2 separate regions of the Homo sapiens genome follow, and region 1 is linked to region 2. Evidence: fine-mapped expression QTL. A gene starts in region 2. The other region holds a variant in brackets. All regions are shown on one strand. Distances are from middle to middle. Region 1 overlaps MAJIN (membrane anchored junction protein). Region 2 holds the start of ARL2 (ARF like GTPase 2).

What was found. PIP is the estimated chance that this variant, and not a neighbour inherited with it, causes the effect.
Region 1: its variant is the best candidate, but not a certain one, in a credible set for the expression of ARL2 in whole blood (TOPMed, PIP 0.77).

Annotation. Positions count from the first base shown.
Region 1 is chr11:64,948,423-64,952,422 of GRCh38, reverse strand. It overlaps MAJIN (membrane anchored junction protein), which reads left to right. Exons shown (of 11, transcript NM_001037225.3): 5 at 1,993-2,068; 6 at 2,555-2,680. Among named protein-coding and RNA genes, the nearest start is that of GPHA2, 15 kb to the right of the region's middle. The variant A/C (reference allele first, on the strand shown) is at 1,918.
Region 2 is chr11:65,011,662-65,016,182 of GRCh38, reverse strand. ARL2 (ARF like GTPase 2) reads right to left here and starts at 2,023. Exons shown (of 5, transcript NM_001667.4): 1 at 1,911-2,023. The coding sequence starts at 1,975. ARL2-SNX15 (ARL2-SNX15 readthrough (NMD candidate)) reads right to left here and starts at 2,023. Exons shown (of 11, transcript NR_037650.2): 1 at 1,911-2,023. RefSeq lists a silencer at 1,417-2,176.

The DNA of each region.
Region 1 (4,000 bases), 63 kb after region 2:
TGAGGTCAGGAGTTTGTGACCAGCCTGGCCAACATAGTGAAACCCCATCTCTACCAAAAATACAAAAGTTAGCCAGGTGTGGTGGCAGGCACCTGTAATCCCAGCTACTTGGGAGGCTGAGGCAGGAGAATCGCTTGAACCCTGGAGGCAGAGGTTGCAGTGAGCGGAGACCAAGCCATTGCACTCCAGACTCCAGCCTGGGCAAGAAGAACAAAACTTCATCTCAAAAAAAAAGGCCGGGCGTGGTCGCTCATGCCTGTAATCCTAGCACTTTGGGAGGCCAAGGTGGGCAGATTGCCTGAGCTCAGGGATTTGAGACCTGCCTGGACAACATGGCGAAACCCCATCTCTACTAAAAATACAAAAAATTAGCTGGGCGTGGTGGTGTGTGCCTATAATCCTAGCTACTTGGGAGGTTGAGGCACAGCACTGCTTGAACCCAGGAGGTGGAGGTTGCAGTGAGCCAAGATTGTGCGGCTGCACTCCAGCCTGGGTGACACAACGAGATTCTGTCTCAAAAAAACAAAAAACAGTAACACTTCCCATAGTAATTACTCAATAAATATTAGCCAGTATAATTATAAGCTAGACACTGTGCTACTATGGAGAATACAAAGATAAACAAGACACAATATCTTTTTTTTTTTTTTTTTTTTTTGAGACAAGGTTTTGCTCTGTTGCCTAGGCTACAGGGCAGTGATGCAATCATAGCTCACTGCAGCCTCGACCTCCCAGGTTCAGGTGACCCTCCCACCTCAGCCTCACAAGTAGCTGGGACTACTGGCGTGTGCCACCACACCCAACTCATTTTTGTATTTTTTGTAGAGATGGAGTATTGCCATGTTGCCCAGGCCAGTCTTGAACTCCCGGGCTCAAGCAGTCCACCTGCCTTGGCCTCGCAGAGTGCTGGGATGACAGGCATGAGCCACTGCGCTGGCCACAGTTTCTATCTTCTTTGAACACAAACATGAGAACACTGAAGCTTAGGGTGAAATGACAAGGCTGGGATTGAAATTGAGACTTTTTTCCCCACAGAAATTTAGTAGTCTTTATGATGCCAAATTAATTAGTATAGACTAATAAGCATATAGCTTAATTAGGGACTAATCGATTAAAATTTAAAGTGAGTGAAAAAAAGGTTTGACTTAAACAAAAGCAAAATACTGTATATCAGTTAATACCAGTATTATTCATTCATTCAATGTACATTTAGTGAGGACTTGTTATGCATTATTCATGATGGTAGACACCATAGAAGGGATACTAAGATAAGTCAGGTGTATATTCTACTTCAAGTAGATCTCCCAGTAAGGAATATAAAACATTTGTATGTGGAATGTAGTAAAGACTCCAGGCTAACTACTGTGAAGTTTGATACTAACAATTATAACTTGGTAAATCAGGGAAAGATTTCTGGAGGAGATGCCTTTTGAACTATGCCTGAAAGGATAGGTCGGATTTGGACAAGTGCTGATGGGTGGAAAGGGCATTTCAGGAAGAGAAATTCCCTTTCTATGCAAAAGCATAGAAATGGAGAAGCGGGCTGGGTGCAGTGGCTCATGCCTGTAATCCCAGCACTTTGGGAGACCGAGGAGGGCAGAGCACTTGAGCCCAGGAGTTCAAGACCATCCTGGGCAACATGGTGAAACCACATCTCTACAAAAAATAAAAAAATTAGATGGGTGTGGTGGTGCACGCCTGTAGTCCCAGTTACTGGGGAGGCTGAGGTGGGAAGATCACTTGAGCCCAGGAGGCAGAGATTGCAGTGAGCAGAGATCATGCAACTGCCCTTCAGCCTGGGCCACAAAGCACGACTCTCTCAAAAAAAGAAAGAAAGAAAGAAAAAGAAATGGAGAATCAGAACACGTGTTAAAGGAACAGCAAATAGTTCAGTTTTGATAGTGTATAGGGTATGTG[A/C]GTAGCAGTGACAAATATAAACAAAGACTGGCTGAGACTCAACAGTGTTAAAGTCATTTCAAATATGTTTTTCAGGATTCTGTCCGCGTGGTCTTGGGAAACTTGGACAATCTTCAGCCCTTTGCTACAGAACACTTCATTGTATTTCCCTGTATCCTTTTTTTTTTTTTTTTTTTGAGATGGAGTCTTGCTCTGTCACCCAGGCTGGAGTGCAATGGCATGATCTTGGCTCACTGCAACCTCAGCCTCCCAGGTTCAAGCGATTCTCTTGCCTCAGCCTCTCCAGTAGCTGGGATTACAGGCACATGCCACCACACCCGGCTAATTTTGGTATTTTTAGTAGAGGCGCTATTTCACCATGTTGGCCAGGCTGGTCTTGAACTCCTGACCTCAGGTGATCCACCCGCCTCGGCCTCCCAAAGTGCTGGGATTACAGCCATGAGCCACTGCGCCCAGCCTATCCTTTCTTTTCTGGCTGGAAATGAGCTACAGCTCACATTTTAGACTCAAATGGACGTAGCAAAACCATAGGCAGTTTGGAGGGTAGGTCAGGGGAAGGAGAGAGAGTCTCATCCCTAAAATAGTACTTAGGAATGCATACTGGCATCTTTCCTTACTCCTTAGCACCATTTTCCAGATAAAAGCAAATGGGAGAGAGTTTCCCACCTGAAATTCAAACATGGGGAAATTATCTTGATCCCCTACCCATTTGTTTTTACTCTATATGTGGAGATGAAATGGTTCCATGAAAACCTGTCACCTGGTAAGTGGAATGATGTGAATGTGGATGGCAGAGAAGAAAATGGTTTAGCTGTGCCAGCTAGGTATCGCGAAAGGGGCTACCAGATTAGGCTCCAGCCATACAGTGCACAGGTCAGGATCATGTGCTCCAGGCCAGACTGACCGGTTCAAATACTGGTGGTCCTGCCACTTAATGGCTGTGTGAAGTTAGATAAATTAATCTTTCTATGCCTCCCTTGTGAAATGGTGAAGAATAATATTACTACCTATATCATTGAGTTGTTAAAAGGATTAAATAGTAGTAGATGAAAAGTACAAAGCCTGACTTAATCACTGAATGAAAGATAACTATTATATAAACCCTTCCATTAGAGAGAATTCTATGATTTTCACTTTAGAGCTATCTTAAAGGTATCTCCCAATTTTATTTTTATTTAGACAGGGTCTCACTCTGTCACCCAGGCTGGAGTACAGTGGTGTGATCATAGTTCACTGTAACCTCTAACTCCTGGGCTCAAGTGATCCTCCTGCCTCAGCTTCCCAAGTAGCTAGGACTATAGGTGTGTGCGACCATCCCCGGCTAATTTTTTTTTTTTTTTTTTTAGTAGAGACAGGGGTCTGACTATATTGCACCGTTGGGTCTCAAACTCCTGGGCTCAAGCGATCCTCCCACCTCGGCCTCCCAAAACACTGGGATTACAGGCATGAGCCACTGTGCCTAGCCCAAATTTTTATTCTCTGAAGGCCATGGGTGTTTTTGTTGATTGAGGGACAAGTAAACACCTACCCTTTTGATTTGAAAAGGGGTGCAGGCTGGGCATGGTGGCTTATGCCTGTAATCCCAGTACTTTGGGAGGCCGAGGCAAGAGGATCACTTGAGGCCAGGAGTTCAAGACCAGCCTGACCAACGTGGTGAAACCCCATTTCTACTAAAAATAAATTTAGCCAGGCGTGGTGGTGTGCGCCTCTAATCCCAGCTACTCAGGAAGCTGAAACAGAAGAATCGCTTGAACCCGGGAGGCAGAGATTGCAGTGAGCTGAGATCACGCCCCTGCACTCCAGCCTGGGCGGCAGAGCAAGATGCCATCTGAAAAAAAAAAAAAAAAAAAAAAAAAAAAAAAAAAATATATATATATATATATATATATATATATATATATATGATGTAGCCCGACATGGTGGTGGTGCATGCCTGTAGTCCCAGCTACTCTGGAGGCTGAGGGAGGAGAATTGCTTGAACCTGGGAGGCAGAGGTTCTGGTGAGCCAAGATCACACCACTGCACTTCTGCCTGGGCAACAGAGCTAGCTCTGTCTCAAAAAAGAAAGAAAAGAAAAGGGGTG
Region 2 (4,521 bases):
CAGGCTGGACTGCAATGGCGTGATCTCAGCTCACTGCAGTCTCCGCCTCCCGGGTTCTGGCAATTCTCTTGCCTCAGCCTCCCAGGTAGCTGGGATTAAAGGTGTCCACCACCACATCCAGCTAATTTTTGTATTTTCAGTAGAGACGGGATTTCACCATGTTGGCCAGACTGGTCTCAAAACTCCTGACATCAGGCGATCCATCCGCCCCGGCCTTTCAAAGTGCTGGGATTACAGGCATGAGCCACTGCGCCCTGCCATCATACAGTGGCCTTCTTTGACCACCCTAAATTGCATTATTCTCCATACCTATATACGTAGTGGGAGTTCATCCTGGAGCAGTATAAGGCCCTGTTCCCCAGAAGCATGGTCCAAAGCATGGCCCATATATATATAGTATGTATGGAGAATATATATATGTATAAATAGAGACAGAGTCTCACTATGTTGCCCAGGCTGGTCTCAAACACCTGGGCTCAAGCGAACCTCCCACCTCAGCCTCCCAAAGTGCTAGGGTTACAGGTGTGTGCCACCGCACCCAGCCTCTATTACATATTTTACTTACTTCCTGTGTTATCATCTTTCTACCCGCGGGCAACCCCCCCGCCACACACACACACACGCATTACAGAATTTCCATGAAGGTAAGATTTTTTAGTTTTATTACCCTGGGCACTAGGACAGTGTCTAGCACATATTAGGCACTCAATATTTATCAAATGAGTGAACTGTATGCTTTTCTTAGAGCTCTTTAAAGCAGACATGCGGCCCGGCGCAGTGGCTCACGCCCATAATCCCAACAGTTTGGGAGGCCAAGGCGGGTGGATCACTTGAGGTCAGGAATTCGAGAACAGCCTGACCAACAAGGTGAAACCCCGTCTCTACTAACAATATTTAAAAAAATAGCCGGGCGTGGTGGCGGGCACCTGTAATCCCAGCTACTTGGGAGGCTGAGGCAGGAGAATTGCTTGAACTCGGGGGGCGGAGGTTGCAGCGAGCTGAGATTGTGCCACTGCACTCCAGCCTGGGCAACAAGAGCGAAACTCCGTCTCAAACAAAACAAAATAAAACAGACATGGGCCGGACTCCGTGGCTCATGCCTATATTCCCAGAGTTTTGGGAGGCTGAGGCAGGAGGATCACTTAAGCCTAGAAGCTGGAGGCTGCGGTGAGCCTTGATTGTGCCACTGCACTCCAGCCAGGGCAACAGAGCAAGACCCTGTCTCAAAAAACAAAACAGTCATGATGTGATTATTAAGTTATATGTGCACGTAAGCGTCTTATCTCCCCAGCCATTCCCCCGCGGAGCCTGGCACAGAGCTGGGGGAACAGGTGCGGGCGCCTAACTGGACTCAGAAGGCGCACAGGGCGCACGGGACACTCGGGCCCACACACACACATCCTCAGCCGCAGGGACAACCACGGGCCGCGTAACACCAAAGAGACGGACTGTTGGATCCACGCTCGAAAGGATCCGCGGAGCCCACACGCGCCACCCGCCACCCCGCACGCCCCCGGGATTCGGAGCTCGAGGGCGGGGCCGGGGCCTGGAACCCTCGGGCCCGGGGGAGGAGATCAGAGCCGGGAGGGCAGCGGCCCCACGCTTGGGCCAGGCCGCCGGGTGGTGGCGTCCGAGTTATCTCCGGGACCCACCACCCCTGACACTCGGGCCGCCTAGCCCCGCCGCTGCGCCTGCAGGACCGCTTCTGCGGCCCTCGGAGCTGGCCCCTGCCCCAGTCCTGGGGTGCGGCTCCTCCCGGCCCGACGGGGCGATTGATGGGGCCCGCGTGGTGACGCCAGGGGCAGTTGGGACGCGCCGGCCGCCGCGTTCCGCTCCCGACAGGGGGCGCCCGGCACCGCCTGCCCGGCTGGACCCCGCCACCCTCGCGGTTCCGGCGTCCGGTAGGATACAGCATGAGCAGTCGCAGCTCCCGCTCTTTCTGCTTCATCTTCTTCAGAATGGTCAGGAGCCCCATGGTCCCCGGAGCCCCCTCCCGGCCGCCGTTTCTTCCCAGTCCCGGGACCCCGCTCCCGGTTCCTGTTGGCTATCACGCTCGCCGACGGCATAGTCGATTGGCCGGACGCTCGTTTGGTCCCGCCCTTGCCGCACGTGACCGCGAGGTCGCCCGCGCAGCTGCTGCGAGGGTCCCTCTAGCGGCGCGGGGGGTTTCTGTGCTGCCGCCCGCCCTGACGCTGCGCCTCCCGAGGGCTGAGGCTGGGGGAGCAAGGGCGACTCCCCCACCCTTTCCCCTGCCGGACTGGGGCTCTTGGCCGGAGCGGAAACCTTGAAGTTCCTGAGTTGCATCTTGGCTGCGTCTGACCTGAGAGTCAGAACCCAGGGCCCCCAGGTACGGACGAACTCATCCTGGGGCCAGTGTAGGCCCCCGTTCCCAGCAACACAGTCCAAATCCTGCTCATCTGGGCCCTCGGCATCATCCTCTGACAGAGCGGAAAGTTGGGCCTCCCCCTACCCGGCTCCGGTGGCTCTCAGTTCAGGGCGGCGGTGCCCCCTGGAGGCCGTTCGGAAACATGCGGGGCGTCCCTGGGTTCCAATGACGGAATTGCAGTCCCGCCCCAAAGGCTGCCCCCACCCAGAGGCCCAGCGTTTCCCTGTTCAGAAGCACAGTTCCTACTTTTGCAGATGGAAAAACTGAGGCCCAGATGGTGCTTAGCACAGTGGCTGGCATGTAGTAGGTGCTCAATAAATATTTGTTGTTGAATGAATGGCTTTGTCCAAGAGTTTCATTCTTTACTTTAGCGCTCAAGAAGTCCAGAAGAAGTGAGGAAATAGGTCAAGGACCAAGCCCTTTTGTAAACTCAGGAGACAGCCTTATTGCTGCAGGTAAGTGTGGATAGGCAGCACGGAAGAGCCTCTCTCATGCTTGGGAAAGAGCTGTCAGCACCAGCTGAGGACAATAGCTAACTCCTGTGTAACTGTTTGCAACGCACTTCACGTGTTCAGCTTCATCCTCCCTGCAACCCTGAGAGGTTTATATTCTTTTCGTAGCTATGATAATGGAATCCAGAGTGTTTAAGGAGCATGGGTGAGATTCAAACTCAGGTCTAGTAAATGGTAAAGCACAATGTCTTCATGCCTCCATGAAGTTTGCCTAGAGAGAGGTCTGGAAGAAGCTGGAGCTTCCCATCTTGCAGAAAGGGGCTTGTGGTCAGAGGAGGGCTGAACAGATAGGCTGCCTGAGTGGGACCCTTCGGTCAGCACCATTTACCCTCCATCACACACACACAAGGAAGAAAGTGAGCATATCGCCTACCCAGAGGCTTCGAAATGCAGCTAAGATCAAAATGGGAAATGCTGGCCGGGCGCCATGGCTCACGCCTGTAAACCCAGCACTTTGGGAGGCCGAGGCAGGTGGATCACGAGGTCAGGAGTTCAAGACCAGCCTGGCCAACATGGTGAAACCCCGTCTCTACTAAGAATACAAAAAATTAGCTGGGCGTGGTGGCGGCACCTGTAATCCCAGCTATTCGGGAGGCTGAGGCAGAGAATTGCTTGAACCCAGGAGACGGAGGTTGCAGTGAGCCGAGATTGTGCCACTGCACTCCAGACTGGGTGACAGAGTGAGACTCCGTCTCAAAAAAAAAAAAAAAAAAAAAAAAGAAATGTCTAGAGGTAGGAGCCTGCCATCCTGCTTCTAGGAGCCTGCACCACAGACATTCTGGCACTGCACAGGAACAACGAAGTTCACTGTGGCATGGTTTGGAACAGCAAGAAATTGGAAAAAACCTAAGTGCCTCCAGTGAGGGCAGGTTACCTGAGCCGGGGTAGGTGCATGTGAATTCATGAAGCCCTTAAAACAGTGAAGTGGGCCAGGCGCAGTGGCTCATGTCTAATCCCAGCACTTTGGAAGGCAGAGGTGAGTGGATTGCTTGAGCCCAGGAGTTCAAGACCAGCCTGGCCAACTTAGGGAGACTCCCATCTCTATAAAAAATACAAAAATTAGCCAGACATGCTCACTTCAACCCAGGAGGCGAAGGTTGCAGTGAGCTGAAATTGTGCCACTGCACTCCAGCCTGGGCGAAATTGTCTGTCTCAAAAAAAAAAAAAAAAATTAGGTGTAGTGGTGCACATCGGTAGTTCCAGCTACCTAGGAGGCCAAGGTGGGAACCAGGGAGGATAAGGCTGCAGTGAGCCGTGATCATGCCACTGCACTCTAGCTTTCATGACAGAGTTAGACCGTCTCAAAGAAACAGAAAACAGTGAGGTGGAGCTGTAAGATACCAGTGTGGAAAGATGTCCGCGCCATATTAAATGAAAAACAAAAACAAAAATTCAGTCCTCTTTTAGTTTTAAAAATAATATTAACTGGAAATATGCCCACTTAGCAATGTTTTTTAATCTATGAGATGCATTCCATTAAGGAAGTGGATTGTAAAATTAGTGTCACAAATAGGTTGAACTGTATGAAATTGCCCATATTTGACAGTTTTGATACACAGATGTATTTCAAATGGTTCAACCTAGTAGCATTAACAAAAATGAAATAGAATGAACAGAACTGAA